Linked DNA regions of Homo sapiens: all the other regions are linked to region 5. The links come from fine-mapping of genetic effects on gene expression. A gene starts in region 5. Each other region holds a variant in brackets. All regions are shown on one strand. Distances are between the middles of the regions.

Region 1 (5,099 bases), 54 kb after region 5:
TTGGGAACCTTACTATTTTATACTTGGGCTAACCTAAATGAGTGCTCAAATTAAGTGATATAGTAATGTTTGATTTGTACAAAGTGTAAACAGAATAATTATATAAATTGGTATCTAATTATGAAGTTTTTTATCATAAAGTAGGAGATCTGTGAATGTGCCAAGAAAAAAATAATTAGGACATATAATTTTGTATTTACTTAAGCAGTAGGAAATAAATTGATAATGGCTACAGATGTATTTGATTTGACAAGTGGCTATAATCATCTTTATTTAGGCGTATTTTGGGGTCAAAGCAGAGTGAACACCGTCCCTCATTACCTCGATTTATTAGCACCTATTCCTGGGCAGATGCTGAAGAAGAAAAATGTGAACTAAAGTAGGTGAAGCTCAGTGTGTTTATTAACCTGACATGAACTGGGGCATAAACAATGGGAATCACTTTTATTCCATGGAGATGAAATAATGCTGTATAATTAAAAAGATAATTCATTGTAAAACACTTTTATAAACTGTAAAGCACAATATAAGTGTTATTTGTGAATATTAATACATTCACTCTCATAGCTCTCAGAATGGCAAAGTTTGAGGTCTTAAGTTAGAAAAGACCCTGGAGTTTGCCATATTTGTGAAGATAATTTTTTTCCTGTCCAGGTGTCTGTCTACAATGGGGAAAGGTCAATAAAGAGCCACAGAAGTAAAATGTCCATCTATTTATATATTTTTAAAAACATGAGATATATAACGTACGTATTATATAACATATAGGCACATATGTAACATGTATGTACATCTATCTATCTTCCATTTATGTAAGTGAAGAGTAGAGGAAACATGAAATTCTGAATTGCTATCTCTGTATCTAGTAAACTAAACAAATATACTTCTACAGTGAAAGGTAGAGGGCAAGAAGGAGGGATATGCAGAAATGCTACCTCTGAGTCCTTGGGTGACATTAGAAAAAGTGCCTAACCTTACTTGGTCTCAGTTTTTTTTTTTTTTTTTTTTTTTGAGACGGAGTCTTGCTCTGTCACCCAGGCTGGAGTGCAGTGGCGCGATCTTAGCTCACTGCAACCTCCACCTCCTGGGTTCACGCCATTCTCCTGGCTCAGCCTCCCAAGTAGCTGGGACTACAGGCGCCCGCCACCACGCCCGGCTAATTTTTAATATTTTTAGTAGAGACGGGGTTTCACTGTGTTAGCCAGGATGGTCTCGATCTCCTGACCTCGTGATCCGCCCGCCTCGGCCTCCCAAAGTGCTGGGATTACAGGCTTGAGCCACTGCGCCCGGCCTTCAGTTTTCATATCTGTTAAAGTGAAGGATCTTAAGGAGATGATTTTATGTTTATTTATTTTATTTTATACATTTTCGTGAGTGCCTACCATGGGATGGACACTCTGCTCAATTCTAAGGAATATAAAGATGAGCATGACATGGTGCAATCCTCAAATAATCTGTTTTGGTTTTTTTCTTTTTTTTAAAGTCCTGGGAGCCTACTGCATGTGTTACAAACTCTTTTCAGATTTAGAGTTAACATAATGAATTTGAGCTGGTTGGAAAAAAAAATCAGTTCAAGAGTCTCCTTCAAAAGATTATCTAGTTTTTGCTTTTTGTTAGTATGGTATGATTTCTACTGAGAAGTCTTTGTAAACAAGACTGAAACCTTGAGAATCTTACAGAAATGCAATGCAATTTATTCTGGCTTTTGGGTCTTGTTTTCTTTAAAAACTAAAGTCTATCATATTTATTTCCCATAGATGTTTGAATGAAAAAAAAGTCTTTGAGACACATTTCCCTTTGGCAATTCTGAGGGTATTATGAGCTTGAGATTTCAAAATTCAAATCCAACTAGGAACTCATCAGCAAATATAGTGGAACAATTATGTTTTGCTTAGGTGGAAGAACACCTCTTTAAATAATATGATTTGATTTAAAATGCAGTCAATCAATTGCTATTTCCCAGTTCACTGAATACTAATTTATTTTAACCAGTTTTATACTGAGAATATTTTCAAAAACACGTTTTAAATTATTAAGATTTTCAGAGAAAAACTCTGATGTTACTCCAAGTTAGCACTGATTGGAAATCATACAGAGAAAGGAATAAAATCAATAATAATGAGAAAAGATTTTTACTAATGTTAAATAAAATTTAAAAGGAAGAGATATGGTGCCCACATTTGTTTTATATATACACATACACACACGCACACACAGGTATATGTACACATCCATATACAAAACATATATACAACATATACATACATATTTTTATATATATAAATATATATATTATGGAATATGTGTGTATATATTATAAACTTTGTATAAGCATATATTAATATGCATATATTATATGTAGATATGTGTGTATATATTATATATAAATATGTGTATATATAGTATATATTTATATATACTGCACTCCAGCCTAGGCAACAGAGTTTCTTCTCCAGCCTAGGCAGAGTTTCTCTGCATATATATATGCAGAGAAAGAATTCATAGTAATAACATTGGTTAATGATGAGACTAACTTCTGAAAGTTCTTTTTAAATTTTCCCTTTTTGTATATACTTGGCTAATATTCTATTGTATATACTTGGCTAATATTCTAACTAACTTTCTACACATTTATTATTTTTCTAAATAGAAGAACTT[A/AT]TTTTTAATTAAATTTCTATAAAAGGTTTAAATTATAAATCTGGTGATTTGATTTTTAGAGTTAGATATTTATCGACTTTCCCTAAAACAGAACAAATATTTGTGAGCCTCTTGAGTTACAGTAAGATTCAGCAATATTTTATGAATAATTATAGCATATTATCCTTAGTTTCAAATATTAAAAACAACATTTATTTACAGAACTAAAGATGACTCAGAGCCATCTGGAGAAGAAACAGTAGAAAGGACAAGGAAGCCAAGTCTTTCTGAAAAGAAAAATAATCCATCAAAGTGGGATGTCTCTTCAGTGTAAGTTATCTACTTGATAAATTCTACCATTTTAGTGGAATGGGAAAGGGTGAGGCAGGGCTGACAGTATTAATCCTAATCAAATTACTAAAAGACATGCCAAATTGTTGTATTTAAGATGAATAACAAACTTTGTATGTCAGGTTATCCTTGAACCTATGTTATCTATTTTGAGAGACAGACTACATTCACATAACTTTTACTGTAATATATGTTATATTCTATTTTATGTTAGTTATTGTTCATCTTTTACTATGCCTAATTTATAAATTCAATTTTGTTATAGGCATGTATCCATAGGAAAAAAACAGTATATACTGGGTTTAGTACTATTTTCAGCTTCAGGCATCCACTGGAGGTCTTGGAGCATATCCCACAAGAATAAAGGGGGACTACTGTACACACACATAAGTACATACACAGACATCCACTCTACCCAGCAAATAACATTTTTGTTTCCACTGTAGGAATATGTTGCCTTACCTTACTGAAAGAATGAGATACTTGTATGTACTTATTAGAAGATACTGCCTACATCACGTAATTTTCAGATTCTCATCGTAGCACATCATTTCTTTAATCCTAATAGGTACAAAGGGTGGGAGGCAGATTGTTTCCAAAACCAAAATGATAAATCATAATATGTAGATTAAAAGGCAGTTTTGGGGGTATGAAGGGCAGATCACCTGACTGGTGGTGTTAGCAAAAGGAATGTTTCTAATGACAAATTACCGATTACCAAATTCTATTTGTGTTTTCCTTATAGTTATGACACAATAGCTTCCTGGGCAACAAATCTCAAGTCCTCCATCAGAAAGGCTAATAAGGCCCTCTGGCTCTCTATTGCATTCATTGTACTGTTTGCAGCTTTGATGAGCTTCCTCACAGGCCAATTATTCCAGAAGTCTGTGGATGCCGCTCCCACACAGCAAGAGGACTCATGGACGTCTCTAGAACATATCTTGTGGCCATTTACCAGACTCCGACACAATGGGCCACCACCAGTGTGACAGCAGGACATCCTAATATATGGATCTTGATTTTTAAGTTTCAGTATCTGAACTTCGTAAATTAGTAACTTTTAGCTGGGAAAGTATAGCATGAAACCAGAGGTTCTCAGAATGACTGTAAGATAGCTTACATTTCCTCTTTTTGCCTTTATCTCCCCAACTAAAATACAATGGGGAAGAAGTCTGCCTATGATCTTTGAATGAGCTTTTTAAGGAAGAAATATTATATATTGTTTGTTAAAGTTTATTGAAATAAAGAATCATTTAAATCTTCATAGAGTGAAAGCTGAAATTCTTAACAGGCCAAGTATTCAAAGGAAAAAAAAATACTGTTTTTAAAATAAAACTTGAGTAGAAAATGCAGATTAGAAAATTTTTAATAGTTGATTTGAAATGTATTCATTCACTCATTACATTGTGTTGCAGAAATACCTGTCTTTCACCATGCTTGGTTCTTCATACTTACAATACAGTTTGTAAGTGGAGGTTAGGAGTAGCTGAGCAATCTGGTAGAGAGCAGCATGTGGCACACAGAGTTGACAAACTGACAGTTGGAACTCCTGACTTTCTCCATTGCTTCCTCAGAAGCAAAATCCTTCACCATGTGATATAAAGTAGAATGAAACTCAGTTTCTTCTTTAAGTGCTTCAGAAAATGCCTCACTCTCTTCCTTGATCTTCAGTCTTTGTGCTCTGTCACCACTAAACATTAAAAGGGCCCAATTAGGATTCTCAGTACATGCTTCAGTAAGGTGTTCCCTCACCTAAAAAAAAAAAAAATTCAAGCAAGTTGTTAATAATTCCTCTTCTATTCAGTATTTTGGTAGCAGATTATTATTTGAAGGGCTCAATTTATCCCCCAAAATTGCAAAGGTTAAAAGAAACAGTCTATGTGTTCCATTACTGGGTTTTGAAAAACCATCACACTGTTTATATTTTGGTGATTATGGAGCTTATCCACATGTATTAATTCATGCAACAAATATTTATTGAGTGCCTATCATGTGTGAGGTACTGTTCTAAGTGCTGGGGATATAACAGAGAAAGAAAACACAGAAGAAATATAGACATACAACATATATAAATAACAACTGCAACAACAAAGCCCTGCCCTCAAGGGGCT
Region 2 (5,109 bases), 20 kb after region 5:
TAATTTAAATTATTCACTTAAATGACTTTCAGTATATTCACAGAGTTGTACAACCATCACCACAATCGGTCTTAGAATACTTTGATCACCCCAGAAATAAACTGCGTACCCATTGGTAGTCTCTCCCTATTTCCTCCTGTCCCCAACCCCCAGCTGGAGGCAACCACTAATCTACTTTCTGTCCTATAGATTTGCCTATTCTGGACATCTCATATAAATGGATTCATACAATATATGGCCTTCTGTGCCCAGCTTCTTTCAGTTAAGGTTCTCAAGGTTCTCAGCATAAGGTTCTCAAGATTCATCCATGTCATAGCATGATATCAGTACTTCATTCATTTTTATGGCTCAATAATATTCCACTGTATAGATACACACCACATTTTGTTTTTCCATTCATCAGCTGATGGGCATTTGAGTTGTTTTTACTTTTTGGCTATTGCAAGTGATGCTATTATGAGCATCAGTGTATTGGTTTTTGTGTAAACATGTTTTTAATTCTTTTGGGTGTATTCCTGTGGCAGAGTTACTGCATCATATGGTAACTCTATGTTTAATGTTTTTGAGGAACTGCAAAACAGACTTCGAGGGTGGCTATATCCTTTTACATTTCCAACAGCAATGTATGAAGATTCCGGTTTCTCTGTATCCTCATTAAATATTTGCCTATTTTTTATTAAAGCCATCTTTGTGGGTGCAAAGTGATACCTCACTGTATTTTTGATTTGCATTTCTCTCATGATTAATAATGAACATCTTTTCATGTGTTTGTTGGCCATTTGTATAACTTCTTTGGAGACAAGTCTACTCAGATCCTTTGCTCATTTTAAAGATGGGATTATATTTCTTTTCACTATTGAATTGTACAAGTTGTTGTTATTCTTCCTGTTGAGTGGGTATATGGCATTGTTTTTGTTCATAAATACCTGTCTGAGCAGCTAAGAAAAAGGAAATGAATCTATTTTGCTCTTACCTAGAGGCCAAGGTGGGCGGATCACTTGAGGTCAGGAGCTCAAGAACAACCTGGCCAATATGGTGAAACCCCATCTTTACTAAAAATACAAAAATTAGGTGGCGGGCACCTATACTCCCAGCTACTTGGAAGGCTGAGGCAGGAGAATTGCTTGAGCCCAGGAGGCAGAGGTTGCAGTGAGCCGAGATTGCGCCACTGCACTCCAGCCTGGGTAACAGGAAAAGACTCCATCTCAAAAAATAAAAATAAAAATAAATTGAAAATTTTTAAAAATATATCTTGCTCTTACCTAGCAATTCTTATAAAGTTTTAGTAAAGGAAGTTGAACTTGGAAGCTTACAGGATGTTTGGTTATTAGTAATTTCCCTTTTATCTGGCACCGAGTTTACCAAGAAGAAGGAAGAAACAAATATCAGTTGTGTGCCAGGAACTTTGTACAAAAGCATTCCCACATGCCATGTGATTAATCTGCTCCACACTTCTCTGCTTTTTACAAAGGAGGCAACTGAAGTTGAGGGAGTTAAATAACTTGCCCATGATCACTCAATTAATAAATAACAAACCTGGGATTAAAATTCAGATTTGTCCAGCTTCAAAGGATACAGGCCTTTGTCATGGCTACTCTTAGTACACTGAATTTAGACATTTTAATCATAATTACTTAGCATTACCTTGAAAGTATTTTTTTTTTTTTTTGGCTAAGAAATGTACTGCCTTTTATATCTAAAAGGACCTCCATATTGACTCTTATTAGGATATGTGACTGCGTGGTTTTGTCTGTGCTTCACACCCATTAAGAAATAGGAGCTGGGCTGGGCGCAGTGGCACACGCCTGTAATCCCAGCACTTTGGGAGACCGAGGCAGGTGGATCACCTGAGGTCAGGAGTTTGAGACCAGCCTGGCCAATGTAGTGAAACCCAATTTCTACTAAAAAATACAAAAATTAGCCAGGCATGGTGGCAGGCGCCTGTAAAACCAGCTCCTTGGGAGGCTGAGGCAGGAGAATCACTTGAATCCGGAAGGAGGAGGTTGAGTGAGCCGAGATCGTGCCATTGTTCTCCAGCTTGGGCGACAAGAGCGAAACTCCATCTCAAAAGAAAAAAAAAGAAAGAAAAAGAAAAAAAAGAAATAGGTGCTAACAGACATCACAATCGAGCCTCCAGTCACATGCTCCTGTAAGTTCCCTGAAGATTTTCTTGTGTCTTCTGTAGTTTGCAACAGCCCAGGAATTAGTCTGTTGGCTGCACCTTCTGACTGATCCCACCAATTCTCAACCTTCCCATTCCAGGTTTCTGCTCCACTGGAGAATCTCAACAGCCTGGTAACTGTACTCTCTGCCTCTGACCCTTGTCCCTTGAGCAACTCCCCACCTACCATCATTTTATACTCACATTATCTCTTAAGAAAATAGAAAGCTCTCCTTAGAAAACGCTTTTCTAAGCATTGTCATTGGTAATAATTACAGGGAATTAGAGTAAAATATAAGATATAAATTATTTTAAAAACATAATATATGTTTATCATCCCAGTGGACACCCCAGACGATGGGTGTTTTCTTAACTCCTTGTCTCTAAATGATGGATTCTGTCAATCTCTACAGCCTTATAACAAACAACTTGACCTGGTATTGGAGTCCCTCTCTAAACTGGTTGCAGTCTACCTTTTTACCTTTATTTCCCCATTGTTGTGTATGGTTGTGCCTGTACGTCAGCCAAACCAGGTAGCCTATATTGTCAGAATATATCACGCAAACGTGTTTGTGCTGTTTTCTTTGCCCAGAACAATGTATGCTTTTCCATTTATCAAAATTCTATTAGACTGTCAAGCCCCATTTCAAAAACCAATAAAAACTTTTTTTGTGGTAGCATAAAATGTTGACATTCAAGCATCTCCAGTCCTTCTTGAGGTGGAAATCATAATGGATTAAGAGTGGGGAGATGAGGTTTTTCTGTGGGTTGGCCTCTGTGTGA[G/C]TCTGGGAAAGTCGTGTTTTCAGGCCTGTTTCCTCATTTCTCAATGATCCAACTCAGAAAAAAACTAAGCTCACTTCCTTCTTTAAGACCCTTGTAATTCTCTGTGCCCCACATTTCTTGTCATCTGTATGCTGGTTTGCATTGTAGTTATTTATTTTCTTATATTTATTTGTGTATTAGGTGATAAAATTGCTGGACAGTACCTTTATTTGGCCATTAACCAATGCGCATGTAGCACCCTGCATAGGATTATATACAGTAGCTGCCCAATAATATTTGTTGAATGCCTATTTATTTAGGTTGTACTCACTACAACGTCTGTTTAAAACACTGAGAGTGAGCACTCAATTAGCTTACTGCTTTCTGACTCATTTCTTGGGCTGGTGCTCCTAAGAACTTGAGATTTACTTTCTGTTCCTTCCCCATATTCACAGAGGAAGCTGTCTTCTAATATCTTTCCCAGAAGGCACAGTGCAATATAAAAGTGAACATCATTATTCATAAGCAGGTCTTTGGGAGAGCAAAGAACGCTAACAAGGTTAATGTCTCAAAAAGAACATCTCAAAGTAAAATAATTTGGAGCCCTGTTTGGGACATTCTTGAGGAAGAAAGAACTTCTTTATTCACCCAATAAATTAGTTTATTTGGGATATTCTGGTGTAGTTAGGAAAGAAGGAAACAAATTATTTCCAGTCCTTATCTTTTGGAGATTCATTCTGAAATATTTACGGATAAAAATGTTATGATGTCTGCCATTTGCTTCAAAACAAGGTTTAGAGGGTGAGAGTTTGAAACAAGATTGGCCATAGGTTGGTAATTGTTGAATCTGCATGACGGATATACCAGGATTCATTAGATTCTTTGTTTTGTCTACTTTTGTATTTATCTGAAATTTTTCCTAGTAATGCTCTAGAATCTTTAGCCACATAGCATAGGCTGTAGAATGAAGCACATCTAGATTGAAGACTGGCTTTATTACTTATTAGCTGTGTGAACTTGGACACATGACCTAACCTGTCTGAATTTGCTGTGTCCCCTGTGAAATAGACATTGATTTTCATAGTTCTTTTGAGGATTCAAATAAACACACACAAATACTTTACATATATACATATATTTCCACATATCTGTATCACTGAGTTCTGGCCTAACCTGTCCATGGAAACAAACCAACTAGGTCATATGTAGAGGCAAGACACTGCCTCTCAATGCCTTGTTTCCCCACTTGCTGATGACTAAGAAGGCCTTTCCTTTCATGGAGTCATTTCCCAACATTTCCAGTGAGTTCCAGAGGTGAATACCAAATATATCCCCATGTTCTTCAGGCCTCACCGACTAGTGGCTTCCATGCAGACTTTTAACCTCTCGAGAAATTGTGGGGCCAAGAAGTTGGTTTCACGACTCATGTCTCTGCAGTTCTTTTGGTTTGTTGTCCACACTGTCCTATGACAACAAAGTTGATTCTTCCTTCTATCTTACTTCAGTCTCAACTCTGACCCCACCAAGATACTCTGTAACATACGCAAAATACCTGAATCATAGTAAAACCTCAAAAAGAAAATTAGCTGGTCATATTTCCCAGAATCAGAATTATCAGCAGCATGAAGGCCAGAGTATATCTTGAAACAAGCCAATGATTTGGAGATGAATTTCTCTGTTTTTCTTTTGGCTGTTAAAAAAATTACATATACCAAATATTAAGTGTCTTGTCTCTCTTTGCGTTATCCTTCATGTTATTACATGCTTTTGTCTAAGATGTACTATCACTGGGAGGCGGTGATTTATTAAGGCCAAGAACAGGATCAATTTAAAAATATCTCAGAAGATTTTCTGGCTATTGTCTGTCCTGTTCTTCCAAGTTGTATGTGGGTGCAGCATTAATAACCTTGGAGAATAAATAACATTGCCAGTTGCAAAATTGGAACATGTAGAAGTTGACTGATAACTATATTATAAATGAACCTGAAAGTGGTGGGTGTAACCTGTAGATCTGAGGGTGTGGTATACCTTTAGTTAGAAAGAGAAAAAATAAATGCAAACCTATAAGCAAATTTAGCTTTGTTTAGGTTCCAGTAGTTCTAATCTTTTAAAATTCAACTTAGCATTGTTCCTCTTTTTGGAACATTTAAACAGACGCTGAGTCAAGTCAGAAGTAAGTCTAATAG
Region 3 (5,109 bases), 34 kb after region 5:
AAATATAAAAACAAATCTGCCGGGTATGGTGGTGCTTGACTGTTGTCTCAGTTATATAGGAGGGCAAGGCAGACAGATCACTTGAGCCCAGGAGTTTGAGGCTGCAGTGAGCAATGAGCATGCCACTGCACTCCAACCTGAGCAACAGAGCAAGACCCTGTCTCAAAAAGAAAAAAAAGAGAGAGAGAGAGAAGACTCATTTCCACTTCTATGAATTAATAATCATTAAAGAGTAACTACAGGTCTAATTTCATGATTCTTCAAGGGTCTTGCTTATGTCTTGCTTATGTCTTGCTATGTTGTATGCATGGAGGGGTGTGTGTGTGTGTGTGTGTGTGTGTGTATTATTGTTTTTTTCTTCTCAATATACAAGCATTGTTCTAGTTAAGCATTTGGTTGCAAGAAACAGAGACCCATGCAAGCTAACTCAAGTTAAGAGGAGGCCATGGCACAGACTTGGGGCAAAAAAGTAGATGAAAATTTTTCAGCATTTCATTCTAAAGATAGTGAAATGATTGGATTTGTGATTTGGAACAATGACATGATGTCATTCGTTTCCTTTGTTATCCAGAGGCGATTGATTCCAAGAACCCCACAGATACCAAAATCAGAGAATGCTCAAGTCTCTTATATAAAAATTGCATAGTATTTGCATATAACCTAATGAAACGGGAGAGTTCCCTGATTCCCCTTGCAGGACATGCAGCAGTGGTGTGTCTCACCTGCTTAGTCACCCCATAGTTCAAGCCCCTAGGGGGAACATGCAGACCAGCAGCTGCAGAGGCCAGGGCAAGCGCTTTTGGGCTCTGCCCCCTGGCAGCATCTAGGGGTCAGTGTCTGTGATTCCCAAAGTCCAAGTGAGTGTGTGTTACAAAGCTCTTTCAGATTTGCCATCTGCAGACAGCTTGTGTGTTAATTAGCTCAATGGACCCTCAGCCTTATCACAAGGGCAGAGGGCCAGTGTGACAGCTTTCTGTATCCTGAGCTGTCGCTCAGTGTCCCAAAAGAATCAGATCACACGTGAGCTGGAAGGATGAGTGCAAGGTTTTACTGAGTGGTGGAGGTGGCTCTCAGTAAGATGGATGCGGAGCCAGAAGGGGGGATGGAGTGGGAAGGTGGTATGGAATGGGAAGGGGGTATTCCCCTGGAGTCAGGCTGCCCAGAGGCCATACTCTTCTCCAACTGCCCCAGGCTAAACTCCCCTTGGCATCCAGACATCCCCCCTCTTCTCTCTTTCTCTGCCATGTCATTCCACTATTGTCAGTCTGCCAGTCTGCTGGTCTGCCAGTGTTGTGTGCTCACTTCAGCTGCTTGTGTTGTGTGCCCACTAAGGTCTCGGGTTTATGTTGGCACAGGATGAGGGGCATGGTAGGCCAGAGTGGTCTTGGAAAATACAACATTCAGACACAAAAACAGGAGTGCCTGTTCTCACTTAGGTCTGCAGGCACAGGCCTGAGGGTGGAGCCCTCACTGGGGACCCCGCCTTTCTCTATCCAGCACTTCCCTGCCCACCTCCCATATCACTAACACATCCTCTTATATACTTTAAATCATCTCTAGACTGCTTATGATACCTAATACAGTATAAATGCTATGTAAATAGTTATAATGACAAGAAAGGAAATCTGCGTGTGTTCAGTACAGATACAACCATTGTAGGCCTAACTACATTTTTTTTAGTTAAATCCATAGATGCAAACCCACAAATACAGAGGGCCAGCTGTATAGGTAGGATATAGTGTTGGCTAGCACATATGCTGAAAATGGTTGCTCCTAGTAAAAAATGAACAGAAGAAAACTCAAGTCCTTTACTCTTTCATAGTAGAATCTTCTGAGAGAATAAAATTCCTTCTCATCTCAAAAAAAATATAGACATAAAGACACTTTTTAAAATAATGGATCAATTTGCCATTGGAAGTTGTGGGACTGGTTAGGATACTATGGCAATAATTCAGATGAGATGAAGGTAGTATGAATTTAGTGAAGGTGGAGAAAAGGAGATAAATTTGAGAAATATTTAGGGGTAGAATTCACAGAGGATGATGACATGTCACGGGTATGGGAAACGGTAGATACCCAGGCTTATGGCTTAACCTACCGAATGAATAGAATAACATGACAGTAGGGAAGGAGGAAGGAGAGTAGAATTTGTGGGGTAAAATAAGATCAGTTTGAGACAAGTCAAATTTCAGGCTGATCTGAGACATTGATAGTCGGTAAGGAGATTTTATATACGGCTGCATACCCATATTCATAAACTCACCTGTGCGGTTTTTGAAAGCTGACATATATTTGTGAATTATCAGCAAAAATCCAAGTGTGTGGATGAGATTTCCCAAGGACTGTGGCAGGAAGGAAGGGAGCATTGAGGATAATGGAATCCTGGCTAACAATATCTACTAGAGAAGGCAGAGGAGACTGAGAACGGGCTGTGACGCGGGGCTGGGGCATCAGAACAGGGAAATCAAGGGGAAAAAATCTTCAAGAGGAAAGGATGTATAGATAATTTTAGATGCTATAGTAAGGTCAAGTAAGATAAAGACTGAAAATTATCCACTGGATTTGGCAATAGGGAGTTGATAGCTGGTGAGAACACTTTTCTTGGAGTGCTGTGTAAAGGGGTAGAGTAGTTAATTGATCACGAATGGGAGAGGAAGAGCTAGAAACAGCAGCCACACACAACTCCTTATGTGACCTTAAAACATATCTATATG[C/T]GGTAAAAGCCTAACATAACACTGTCTTAGCAGCCATCTTTGTCACAATTTCTCCAAAAACCTATCTAGAAAACTCCATGTGATAGCCCTATATCACCCACACCTTACCTTTTCATCTATCCAGTCCTACCTCTTCATCAAACTTCAGCATGTTTCTTGTCTGCAGAAATTCCATGCTACTCAAGTCATGGTGTCATGGTGCCACTCTCCTTCCTTTTTTTTTTTTTTTTTTTTTTTTTTTTTGTTGAGACAGAGCCTTGCACTGCTGCCTAGCTTGGAGTGCAGTGGCATGATCTCGGTTCACTGCAACCTCTGCCTCCCCAGTTCAAGTGATTCTCCTGCCTCAGCCTTCAGAGTAGCTTGGATTATAGGCCTGCACCACCACCCCTGGCTAATTTTTGTATTTTTAGTAGAGACGGGGTTTTGCCATGTTGGCCAGGCTGGTCTTGAACTCCTGACCTCAGGTGATCCACCCACCTCAGCCTCCCAAAGTGTTGAGATTACAGGCGTGAGCCACAGCGCCCTGCCATTTCCTTCCTATTAAGAGCACTTGTTTATCTATCTCATTTATTTGGCAATTAATCCTAGTTTGCATTGTTGTAATTCACATCATGTTTGCATCTTTTCATGTATTTACGCCCTTTTTGCTTCAACTAGATTGGAAGCGCCCTTGCAGCCAATTTTATTTCCTTCTTAACAGCATTAAAAACTGTAGAGCAGGGGTCCCCAGTCGCTGCTGAGCCAGGGATCAGAACCCATTCGAGGCTGTTAGGAATTGCGCCGCACAGCAGGAGGTGAGCGGCAGGCCAGGGAACATGACCACCTGACCTCTGCCTCCTGTCAAATCAGTGGTGGCATTAGATTCCCACGAACCCTATTGTGAACTGTGCAAGCGAGCCATCTAGATTGCATGTTCCTTAGGAGAATAACGCCTGATGATCTGAGGTGGAACAGGTTCCTTCAGAAACTGTTTCCCCCTCACCTCACCCCCGTGGAAAAACTGTCTTCCAGGAAACTGGTCCCTGGTACCAAAAAGGTTGGGGACTGCTGTTATAGAGTGTTTTTGTCAGAGTAGGCTTAGGAGAGGACAGGAAGTAGGAAAATGACTGGTTATGAAGTATTTCCACTCTATGTACAGTGGTAAAATCTTATGATTTTAGGAAGCCAAAGAGGAACCAGAAACAATAGAAGAACATAAAAAAGAACATGCTTCAGGAGGTAAGGAATGTTTCTTTCAATCCCCATGTGAACTTTTGTTCTCTGCTGATATTTTTGTGGGTGAAATCTGTCTGAATAAAGCTATGTCACTTACAAATTCTGCATCTCTGGATAAGGTCAGTCAATAGGACCGATTATTGATTCCATTTGTGTCATTTTCAAAAAGCCACATTTGCATTGTGTTGACTGTGCGATCCCAGAAAACCTGTAATAACTGGTGCTCTATTGTGAACTAAGAACCAAGCGAATGTTGGTAGCAAATGCTATGCTCTACTGTTAGTTCTTTTTTAGTATCCCATCTAAAAGTAAAGCCCCTATTTACAGAATAAGTGCTAATATGCTTTTCCCCTTAGCCTACCTCCATTGGGATGGAATAGTGGATAGAGTTCAGGCTTTGGAGTCATAGAGACTCTACATGGGATCAATCTCTGACTAGCTATTGATCTTGGAAAGTTACTTAACCTTAAGTCTCAATTTTCTCATTTGCAAGAGGAAAATGAAAAGAAGAAAAGTACACTTAATTGAGAATATATTCTATGCTGAGAACTAGGCTAATTTCATGTGCATAGTTTTATTTAGTCCTCCAAATACTATGTGAGGTGGTAAATTGTGATTCAGTTGCCTAGCCTATAAAATGTGGACAATAAAAGTATCTACAACAGAAGGTTTGCTGTGAGGATTGAATAAATTAATATGTATGAAGCACTTAGAAAAGTGGCACCAAAGTTCTCATAAAAGTTAGTTACTATTATAAAAAAATCAATCTTATCTTAGATGATAAGATATCTTTATCTTATCAATCTTATCTTAGATGGCTTAATGACTTTGTGACTTGTTCAAGCTCACATAACTGTAAGATTCAAACAAAGCTCAGACTTAAACCAAGTTTGTTTGACTTTAAATCCAATGCTCTTAATAACTAATACATAGTCCTTGGTAAAGTTGTCATAAAATCATATGTGTAAAATGCTTTGCTCTGTGATTGGCAATATAATAAAGCCATGGTTGATGCCATGTTTATTGTCACTGTTATTGTTACCAGTATTATTATTACTACTATTATTATTACTACTACTGTTCCTGCTACTGCTAATAAAGCCTTGATCCAAAGAAGAACCAGGATACCAGTAGGAGGTTTAGGCTTTTAGCCATGGGATCAAGTATAGCAAACATGCAA
Region 4 (5,109 bases), 47 kb after region 5:
AATGAAATTACAAAAAAGATTCACTTTTCCTGAGACTATGGATTTCTCACTTCTAGGAATAAGTTTTAAAAAATACTTTTGTTGTATAAGACATATGCGTTTAATACATATGTGTTTAATACAGAAAAAATGGAATATACAAATAAAAAATGTTAAAAAAATATAATACGATCCAGTGACAATCATAAAATTTTTGTGATATATTCTTCAAGATGTATAGTGTTATAATATAGTGTTTATAATCCCTTATATAGTGTTATAATCTGCTTTTTATTCATCATACAACATAGGTAACTTTCTGTGTGATATAATTATATACTCACATGTCACCATTTTATGGTATTCTACTGGTTGAGTAGATATAAATTATTTAACCAATTCCTTGTATTCAATCATTTCAGGATGTTTTTGGTATTTTTCTGTTATAAACAATGCTCCAGTAAATATCCTTGTATATGCATCTGTGTGTATTTGTCCTTAGAGAAGTAGAATTCCAAAATTTCTTTGTGGGCAAACCTGGGGAGATATGAATTTTTTAAATCTATACCTAAGCAGACTTGTTAAAATATATTTTCTTAAGGAGAAATTTAATTGTGGTAGTAATTTTAGTTTGATCATTTGTTATATACTTTCACACCTTAGTTCCTTTTTAACCCCTCACTAGAGAATACTGTTATTCTTTGTTTCATTTTTACTAAAGTTATATATGCACATAGTTTTTTAAAAGGTCAATCAGCTCTATAAGCCTTACTAATTTCCCGTGATCCAGAGAAACAACTTTCAACTTTTTGTCTTATTTGTTTTGTATTTGCATTCACATTTTTCAATAACATGCTCATGCTGCCATTTAGTGATTTATTTTCAGTTTTAGGTATTATCTGTTGCTCTTCCACTACGAAGACAAATATTTAGTTCTTTTATCAATCTCTGGCCCATCACACCTTTTCACTGTCCCTCAAGCTACTGTTGGCCATCCTGCTTTCCTGGCCAAGCTTATACTCCACAGTTAAACATAGTTTTCACTACCTTGCATGTCCCCTCATCACTTACCCCTTTCTTGCTTTGTCTTACTCATTTGGCGAATCTACAAGTAAATCCGCTTCTCCACCTCTCATGCCTGCATAGCTGGAAAATGTCACATTCCCATGCTGACCTGTTTCTCTTTGAATTCATTATCACAAACCTCAAGCGGGTCCTTGGGGCTTCCCCTCAATCACCCTCCTTCTCTTTTAAATATCAATTTCCCACCCTTTCCTTTCTCCTCAAACCACTGTCATGTCTTTCCCCATATTCTCTCTCAAACACAGGTAATGACTGCTTCCAACCTCACTGAGGAAACTGGGACAATCAAAGGAAACTGCCACAAAGCCTCCCAGCGTGTGAATCCTTACACACTCCCTTGCTCTTGTTCCTAAAGATGCGTTGTCTCTAACCCTATCCAAGGCCAGCCTTCCCCACTGTAGATGGGAGCCTTCCCGACTAATTTACTCAGAGTCATGGGACCAAATTCTCCTGACTTTTCTCCATTTACATTTTCTCCACTCTACTGAACCATTTCTATCAGCACACAAATAATATGTTGTTTTCTAGATGGGAATAATAACACAAAACAAACACAAACAAAATAACTTTTTATCCTTTCTTTTCTGGCCACCACCCTGTTTCTCTGCTCCCATTTACAGCAAACCTCGACAGAATGGTACTCACTGTGTTCAGTCTCCCTCCTCCCACGTTCTCTCCAACCCACTCTGTATCAGCCTTTTGCTTCCACAAAGCAGATTTTTCCAAGGTCACTAGTGACCTCCACATTACCAAATTCAGTTTCTCAGTCCTCATCTGGCATGGCTGATGTCTTCCTCTTCCTGGAAATGCTTTCCTCACTTAGCTTCCAGGCACCATGTCCTCTAGCTTTTCTCTACATCACGGGCTGCTCCTTCTAGGCTTCCTGCAGTTCTACCCCTTCTCCTGGACCTCTGAATATTGAAGAGCCCCAGGACTCCACTCGTGCACATCTGATCTCCATGTGCACGCAATCCCCCTGTGATCCCTTGCAGTCACCTGAGGACTCTCAAATTCATATGTTTAGCCTAACCCACTCCCCTGAGCTCCAGAGCAGAGTATGCTACTGCTGACTCAACAGTTCCACTTGGATGTTTGATAAACTCAAACCTACCATTCAAAACTGACTGTTCATGGTCCCCCCACCAAACCTACCCCATGCATAAGCTCCTTACTTCACTCAAGGGCAGCTCTGTCCTTTTAGTTGCTCAGGCCAAAATAGGGGCAGAGGGAGCTGGGGTAATTCTCAACACCTTTCTCTCTCACTTCACATTAAATCCTACAGAAAATCCTATTGGCTGAATTGTCAGAATATATTCAGAATTCAACCATTTATTTCCCTTTC[T/C]ACTGTTACCATCTTGATCTAAGCCTCCATTCTGTTTTGTCCAGATTAATGCAATAGGTTCCTATATGGTCTCCCTGCTTCCATCCAATTCCAATCCCTCCTCCCAACATAGTCTGTTCTTAATAAAGGAGCCAGAGTAATCCTTTTAAAATTAGATTGTGTTACTTTTTGGTTCAGCGTCCTAAAGCTCCTCAGTTTACTTGGGGTAAAACCCAATGTCTTACTGTGGTTTGAAAGGATGTGTGGCCGGGCGCGGTGACTCACGCCTGTAATCCTAGCACCTTGGGAGGCCAAGATGGGCAGATCATGAGGTCAGGAGTTTGAGACCAGCCTGGCCAACGTGGTAAAACCCCGTCTCTACTAAAAATACAAAAATTAGCCAGGTGTGGTGGCACGTGCCTATAATCCCAGCTACTCGGGAGACTGAGGCAGGAGACTCACTTGAACCCGGGAGGCAGAGGTTGCAATGAGCCGAGATCGTGCCATTGCACTCCAGCCTGGGCAACAAGAGTGAGACTCCATCTGAAAAAAAAAAAAAAAAAAAAAAAAATGGGCAAAAGACTTCAATAGACATTTCTTCAAAGAAGATACACAAATGGTCAATAAGCAGGTAAAAAGATATTTAACATCCTTAAATGTATTAGGGAAATACAAATCAAAACCACAATGAGATACCACTTCACACCCACGAGGATGGCTATGGTGAAAGAAGAAAGGAAGTAAGGAAGTTGGAAAGGAAGGAAGGAGGGAGGGAGGAAGCAAAGAAGGAATAGTGTTGGTGAGGATGTGGGGAGATTGCAAACACTGTACGTTGCTGGGAGATGTGAAATGGTCCAGCCACCGTGGAAAACAGTTTGGTGGATCCTTAAAAGTTAAACATAGAATTACCATATGACTCAGCAATTTCATTCCTAGATGTATACCCAGAAGAATTGAAAACAGGCACTCAGATACTTGTACACAAATATTCATAGGACTATGAACATTCCAGATGTTTCACTGGGGTACTCCTAATGTCATTAGTTATAGGACTTTTATCTTAGAATATTAGAATCCCCAGAGAAAAACCTTCCAACTGCCTGCCTTGAGGGTGTAACTCTGGCTGCCAGTGTTTGGAGGCTGGAAGGAGGAATAAGGCTGGATCTCAATATTCAATATGCATATAAGTTGTTGCTTAAATCTGTTGTTTTCAGCATGATAGATCCATCATCAACTATCTGTTCTTTCCCAATCCACAGAACCTCAAGTTAACTCTCTCTAGATATCCAACTGTATGTAGTCTTTCACCAAAATAGTGGAGGGAAAATTGCTGTGCTGGCCACAGTAAGGAAGGAGTCTCTGGACCTAATCTTTTTTTTTTTTTTTACACAGACTTTCAACCATTTCTTCTGTTCACATACCCACCATCAACCTTACTGAGGTGCAGTGTAGGTTGCTTCTAGGCTTTTCTTACTGCCTTTTTTAGGGTTCAGCTTTTCCAGGTCTTAGTCATTTGCCACTAGTCCTTCTATCCAGCTTTCAAAGTCTTGTTGTCATATTCTCTTCTGTTTGCCCCTGTAGATGCATGTCTTTTTAAAAAAAAAACATTTATTGCCACTTTAGTGGGATTTAGGAATGGAGTGAAGGTAAATGTGTTTAATCACCATCTTTTAATTGAGAGTAGTATTTTCAATGTAAATGTGCTCGTTTTTTCTCTTGCTAGGAAAGCCGGGTTAGTAAAGCAGTTGAAGTGATGATTCAGCACGTAGAAAACTTGAAGAGGATGTATGCCAAAGAGCACGCTGAATTAGAAGAACTGAAACAGGTTCTTCTGCAGAATGAAAGGTCTTTCAATCCTCTTGAAGATGATGGTAATAAAAGTTTATGATAATAGTATTAGTTGTGTTTTTCTACATTCTCCTCTTTTTTGCTAAGTCTTATTATTACTTCAGTATAATAAAACTCTTAGGTTAACTTTATATTAGAAAAATAATTCATTCCTGTTATTTATATAGCTAAAAGTGAGGTGTCAGAAAACAGGTTGGGACACATGAAGGATTCTTTAGTAATGACACCAAAAATTTATTAACTCAATTTAGATTACTGAGATGACAGAATATATTTAATCCAACTCATGAAGTTGACCTTAGTGTTCCCCTACTTAGGATACATTAGAATTTCTCCACACGTAAAAAGTAAGGATAAATAATTTAAATGGGCGCTGCCATCAGCAACGGTTTTGATTCCTCACGGAAGGAATGACCCTGGCACAGTAAGCTGATTGATGAACTGGAAAATAGAGAAACATATGAGGCCACGGGGAGTAACATATCGTTTCTATAAATCTTACAATAGTTTTATTTAAAATAAACAATATGAACTTTTCTGAGCAGAATTCTTATTTCAAGAATCTGTTCCCTGTTCTAGAACAGTAACCATATTTGATACTCTTCTGAACTGTACTTTTGGATTCCTTTCTCCAGCAGACACACATGTAGTGCCTACCCTGTGCTAGCTAGGCATTATGGACATCACAGTGACACAGAGGACTGTATTCCATTGGTTAAGATGGTAATTGTTATGAAGAATGAAATGAATGATAAACAGATATTTATATTGCTCGGTAGTCTCTAAAGTCTTAATATCTTCTGAATTTTGCTTTACCTTTAAAGAATTAAGACGTTGCTTTAACATAAATGGCATGTGTAATAGCTAAAATGTGTCAA
Region 5 (5,109 bases):
CGCTTCAACCCGGGAGCCAAAGGTTGCAGTGAGCTGAGATCGCGCCAGTGCACTCCAGCCTGGAGACAGAGCGAGACTCCGTCTCAAAAAAAACAAACAAACAAACAAACAAAAAAAAACAGTTACAGAGTTTTCTCAAAATATTAAAAATTAAACTACCATCTGATCTAGGAACCCCACTTCTGGGTATTTATCCAAAATAATTAAAATCAGCACCTGGAAGAGCTATTTGCATTCCCATATTCACTGCGGCATTATTCTCAATAGCCAAGATTTGGAAACAACCTGAATGTCCACGGATGATTGGATAAAGAAAATTTGGTATATAAATACAAGGGAATATTATCCAACCTTTAAAAAGAAGGAAATTCTGCCACATATGACAACATAGATAAACCTGGAGGACACTATCCCAAGTAAAATAAGTGAGTCACAGAACAACAAATACTGCACGATCCCACTTCTCTGAGGTATCTAAAATAGTTAAACTAATAGAAAGAGAGAGAATAGTGGTTGCCAGGAGCTAGGGGAGGGGAAATGAGGAGTTGCTACTCAATAGGTATAAAGTTTCAGTTATGCAAGATGAAGATGTTCTAGAGATCTGCTGTACAACATTATGCCTGTAGTTAATAATACTGTATTGTACACTTAAAAATTTGTTAAGTGGGTAAATCTCCTGTTAAATGTTCCTGCCACAGTTAAAGAAAAAGAGAGAAAAAGAGAGTGAGAGAGACAACGATAAGCTATTGAAGGACGCTCAGTGGAAAGTGTGGTGATGTAGGCAGTTTTTATTTTTGCTTAGGATTTTGTTTGCTTGTTTACCAGTATGGTAAGCATTCTGTGAGACCATTCTTGCCTCTCATGTGGTCCTTCGTGTAACCAGGGCTGGATTTGTGCCAGTGTGCAGTGGCATTCTGACTAAATGTTAACGTTTGAGAGGCATGCACAAGGCCTACGGCTGACAATGTCTTCCTTGCTGTTTTGCAACTCCCGACATTTATCACCACTTTGAGTTAAGGTCCATATTCAAGTCAGATTGTTTCCAGATAATCATTGAGGTACTGGCATGTAACACACATTAAATAATCTCATCTGCTAACAGAGAGTAAGTGCATTTTTACATGTTTTAGAGATTAGAATTGGATCCAAATGAGGTGTAACGTAATGGCACCATGAGATCTGTGGTGGGGAAGGGTGATGGGGAGAAAAGCTTCAGCAAAAAGAGGACTAAAGTAGAAATATCAACCGCCAGCTTTCATCTGTGCCTGGGGGCGGTCCTTCCTGTGCTCGTGGCACGTGTTTATACTATGATTGACAACCCTTAAGGAGAAAGGCTAAGGTCATGAAACAAAGCTCTCTTTCCTTTTCTTTTCCCTCCCCCTACCTTTACCCCATTCCTTTCTTTTTCTGTAAAAGCTAGCTGTGATGTGTAAATGTTGCACCTGTCACCCTGACCTCATTGTAGAGCCATCTTCTGAGTAACTGGCAACTGGCAACTGATGCTAAGTGCTATGAATGCAGCTGGTGGGAACTGAACACACCAGTGTAAAAGATGAAACTAGAAGTCCTTATCTGTAAAGTGAGGGTGTCAGGCTAAGCGACCAATAAGCTTTGCTTAAGATTTTATATTTGTGAAGCATTTATATGTAAATACTTTCACTTTTTCCTCTGATCTCTAAGGAAGTGGTGTTAAGTTTGAGTTTGTCATAATTTCACAGGGTGACTCTTAGTTGAAATGTCACTGACAGCTTGCGGTTTGGACTTTTTTTTTTTTTTTTTTTTTTAACTCCAGTCAGAAACAACTAGAAGCCATTAAACAACTACAGGAAGATGCTGTCAACCAGGAAGGCATCCTTAGGAAGAGGCTCCAAGAAACCAGCCAACGGCTGGAGGATGTGGAGGAGCAGGTAGGGTGGCTCATGGCTACATTAGATTCAGGGGACATCTCCTCAGATGCCCTGCAAACCATGAAATAAAAATGGAGGAGGAACAACAACAACAAACAAAAAAAAAAAGCAAAGAGGAACTGCAAGTTCAGTCCCTAGCGACTAACAGTGAGCAGAGGAAGTAAAGGGGGAGTTGTAAGAGAGGCGGTATCAACAGCCTGCTGATGAAAGAGGCGACTCTGCAGAAAGAGGCAACTTGACATATCAGGACTTTAACCGCTGTAGAAATAGCTCAGGCATACCAAGCCCATGCAAACACAGAATTGCAGAAGTTCAGGAGAGGCTTATCACTTCCCTGAGAAGAAAAACACATTTTCAGTTTTGCCTGCATCATAAGAGTGAGCACTCCATTGCTTTCTTTCCTGGCCACACTGCTACAATCCAGCACTAACTATCCATGTCCAGGGTAAGGATCGAGATCGAGAAGCCCACACTGCCAGTGAAAAAGCTACGTCTTTACTGCATAAATTAGAGGAAGCAATTTCGGAACAACGGAACCTTCAAACTATAAATACTGAATTATCGAACACTTGCCAGGCACTTCAGCAGAAGACAAGGAAACTGAAGAGTGAGTAGCAAATATTCATTTATGACCCAGTTTTTGTCCACCCTCAGGCGGGGCATAGGACTACAGACATTTTTCTAGATTACAGCTAGGATATTATTCCTGAGTTTATGACAATGAAATGGTTTGAGAAGGCAATATTGTGGGGCTTTCAGAGAGGTTTGCTGAGTGGCTAGGTGCATGCATGGGTTTAACCATTAACTTCCCTTTTTGCCTTTTTATTATAAGCTGGTTTTGTCTGTGGCTGTTTTTTTCTTTTAAAATTAATTAAAACTTCTCAAAATTTCTAAAAGTAAACAAGGAGAAAAATCTAGTATGCATGGTATATTTGAACTTGCAAGTTGTTATATATTATACTCTGATTTTATTAGCTAGTTTTTTTCCTCTCATATGGTAGAAAAGGCCTTGCTCGTCTATTTTCTTTGGAAATTTTAGGGGGTTGGGCAAAATAATTATGAATTCAGTGTATATCAAAATATCAAATGTGTGAAAATTCTTTTAAAGTTTTAATGCATTCTCTACATACATCTACATACATATTTTGCATTTTAAAAATTGGAATATTTGTCATTTTTCTGTATTACCCAAAAGTATATAAACAGTTACCAGAGATTTATGTGAGAAGACAGTTGTCACATTACAGATGTCAGATTAGCTATAAAATTGTTTCATTCTAGAAACCTAATATGGTAAAAATAAACCTTACTTATTTAGCCATTTATCAGACAATTGCTTTTGTTCAGCCAGTTTCTTGTTCTAGCAGTATAAATATTCTTTTTATAGAAAGTTACTTGGTTTGAGAAATAAACATTGTTTATTTGTTAATTGTTATATAATTATAAATAATTATATATTTAATATATAAGCTTAAGGTAGGCTAGAGATGAAAAATTTCAGACTTGTGTTTGTTTTGGATTTATTGTACCCTTTCTACTATTATCTGAGAAAGCTATTTAGGAGTTTAAGAAATAGTCTAGTTTTAAAATAGCAATGGTTTGCCGGACACAGTGGCTCACCCCTGTAATCCCAGCATTTTGGGAGGCCGAGGTGGGCAGATTGCTTGAGCCCAGGAGTTTGAGACCAGCCTGGACAACATGGTGAAACCCTGTCTCTACAAAAATTACAAACAAATAAATAAATAAAACATTAAAATAGCAGTGGTTATTCAACATATTATTGTCATAATTTTTAAACCTTTATTGAATTTGCCAGTTTTCAATATTCTGATTCACTCTGTTAAGCTAGTAAGGCAGTCTTTAAATTACACAGTCTGTGTGTTATTTTACTACTGCTCAGAGGGCATTGGAGAAGGTTCCCTTGTGATTAGAACTGTTCATGTTGAGACATGAATCATAAGGCATTCCAAAGTTGGTTTAAGGTGTGTCTGCTTTAGACACTGTGCCCAGGACTATTCTTTTGCTCCAGTTTTGCCTTTTGATTAAATCAATATTATACCTGAGTTTTATAAACTACTAAGAATTTGTTCCCCTTCCTCACTGTGATTTTCTTGCAGTATTTTCTTAGAAGAGTCAACTTTAATAACTTACCCCAAAGTGCACGTTCTTGATATTATGAACTTGCTATTGTTGTCTTCCCAGTTTATCTTCACGGCCCAATAGATTCAAATACACTTAAAAGCAGAATATGAAAGCTGCCCTGGGTTGATACGTGTATTTTTTTCTGCCTGGATAACGTAGAGTGGACACTTCCTTTCTGTCTTGAGTTATGCATAACCTGTCCAGATTTATGAAATCCCTTACTTGTTACTTGTATCTTTTGCTGCCCAAAAAACCCATACAAATCAGGATTTTGCTTATATGACCATGTACTTACGATCTTTCTAACAATGCCCTTTAAATTCAATCTTTGAGAGAAGAGGGAAATTTAGATAGCACGTATTTTCAAAATGTTCTATATAGCAGATGTTCCAGATAGACTGCAAACAAATGTCAATGACTGCAGTTATCACACAAACACGTCCACGCACATCCCGCCATGACCACTGCCACCCCATGCTGTTTGATTTCTGAGTCAGACATCTGATTCTGAGTCAGAAAACAAAACATATTTATATCTATTTAGCTTTTCTGAAACTCTCTGGCTAGTTTAATAAATTCACAAAGTATTTCAGACAATTGTTTTCTGATCCATCTAAGTTGCATCAGCACATTGTGTGGGGATGCAGCTGGTTTGTCCAAATGTTCAGATCAATGTGCATAATGTTCACACTACAACTGGAAATTTATATGTGATGTTTGATCAGAAATCCTGAACTTTATCTTGAATAAATGATATTGTTCAAGTTTTCAATTGCCTTCAGGACTGGGCTGATTTATGAGGCAATTCATGTGCATGATATTCTTCAAGAAATGTGCCATGAAAACTGTTCAATTGCTTGAATGGTTACTTATATATTTTATTTCTTCTGCATCTAAACTTTGTTTATATCCAAGTATCTTGTTAATAGACACATGACTGGATTATAATTAGTGTTTGCTTTAAAAAGGAAATTTTTTTTATTATACTTATGTTCTAGGGTACATGTGTACAACGTGCAGGTTTGTTATATATGTATACATGTACCATGTTGGTGTGCTG

The links. PIP is the estimated chance that this variant, and not a neighbour inherited with it, causes the effect.
Region 1: its variant is fine-mapped to the expression of IRAG2 in whole blood (INTERVAL, PIP 0.99).
Region 2: its variant is fine-mapped to the expression of IRAG2 in esophagus mucosa (GTEx, PIP above 0.99).
Region 3: its variant is fine-mapped to the expression of IRAG2 in breast (GTEx, PIP above 0.99).
Region 4: its variant is fine-mapped to the expression of IRAG2 in whole blood (TOPMed, PIP above 0.99).

The regions. Positions count from the first base shown.
Region 1 is chr12:25,104,084-25,109,182 of GRCh38, forward strand. It overlaps IRAG2 (inositol 1,4,5-triphosphate receptor associated 2), which reads left to right. Exons shown (of 22, transcript NM_001366544.2): 20 at 278-379; 21 at 2,860-2,967; 22 at 3,734-4,252. The coding sequence ends at 3,977. It overlaps DNAI7 (dynein axonemal intermediate chain 7), which reads right to left. Exons shown (of 16, transcript NM_018272.5): 16 at 4,206-4,740. The coding sequence ends at 4,465. Among named protein-coding and RNA genes, the nearest start is that of IRAG2, 54 kb to the left of the region's middle. The variant A/AT (reference allele first, on the strand shown) is at 2,659.
Region 2 is chr12:25,070,139-25,075,247 of GRCh38, forward strand. All of the region lies in intron 6 of IRAG2 (inositol 1,4,5-triphosphate receptor associated 2), which reads left to right. Among named protein-coding and RNA genes, the nearest start is that of IRAG2, 20 kb to the left of the region's middle. The variant G/C (reference allele first, on the strand shown) is at 2,945.
Region 3 is chr12:25,084,226-25,089,334 of GRCh38, forward strand. It overlaps IRAG2 (inositol 1,4,5-triphosphate receptor associated 2), which reads left to right. Exons shown (of 22, transcript NM_001366544.2): 11 at 3,875-3,932. Among named protein-coding and RNA genes, the nearest start is that of IRAG2, 34 kb to the left of the region's middle. The variant C/T (reference allele first, on the strand shown) is at 2,715.
Region 4 is chr12:25,097,072-25,102,180 of GRCh38, forward strand. It overlaps IRAG2 (inositol 1,4,5-triphosphate receptor associated 2), which reads left to right. Exons shown (of 22, transcript NM_001366544.2): 16 at 4,107-4,254. Among named protein-coding and RNA genes, the nearest start is that of IRAG2, 47 kb to the left of the region's middle. The variant T/C (reference allele first, on the strand shown) is at 2,405.
Region 5 is chr12:25,050,443-25,055,551 of GRCh38, forward strand. IRAG2 (inositol 1,4,5-triphosphate receptor associated 2) reads left to right here and starts at 2,264. Exons shown (of 22, transcript NM_001366544.2): 1 at 2,264-2,514. RefSeq lists enhancers at 1,619-1,728, 1,769-2,138.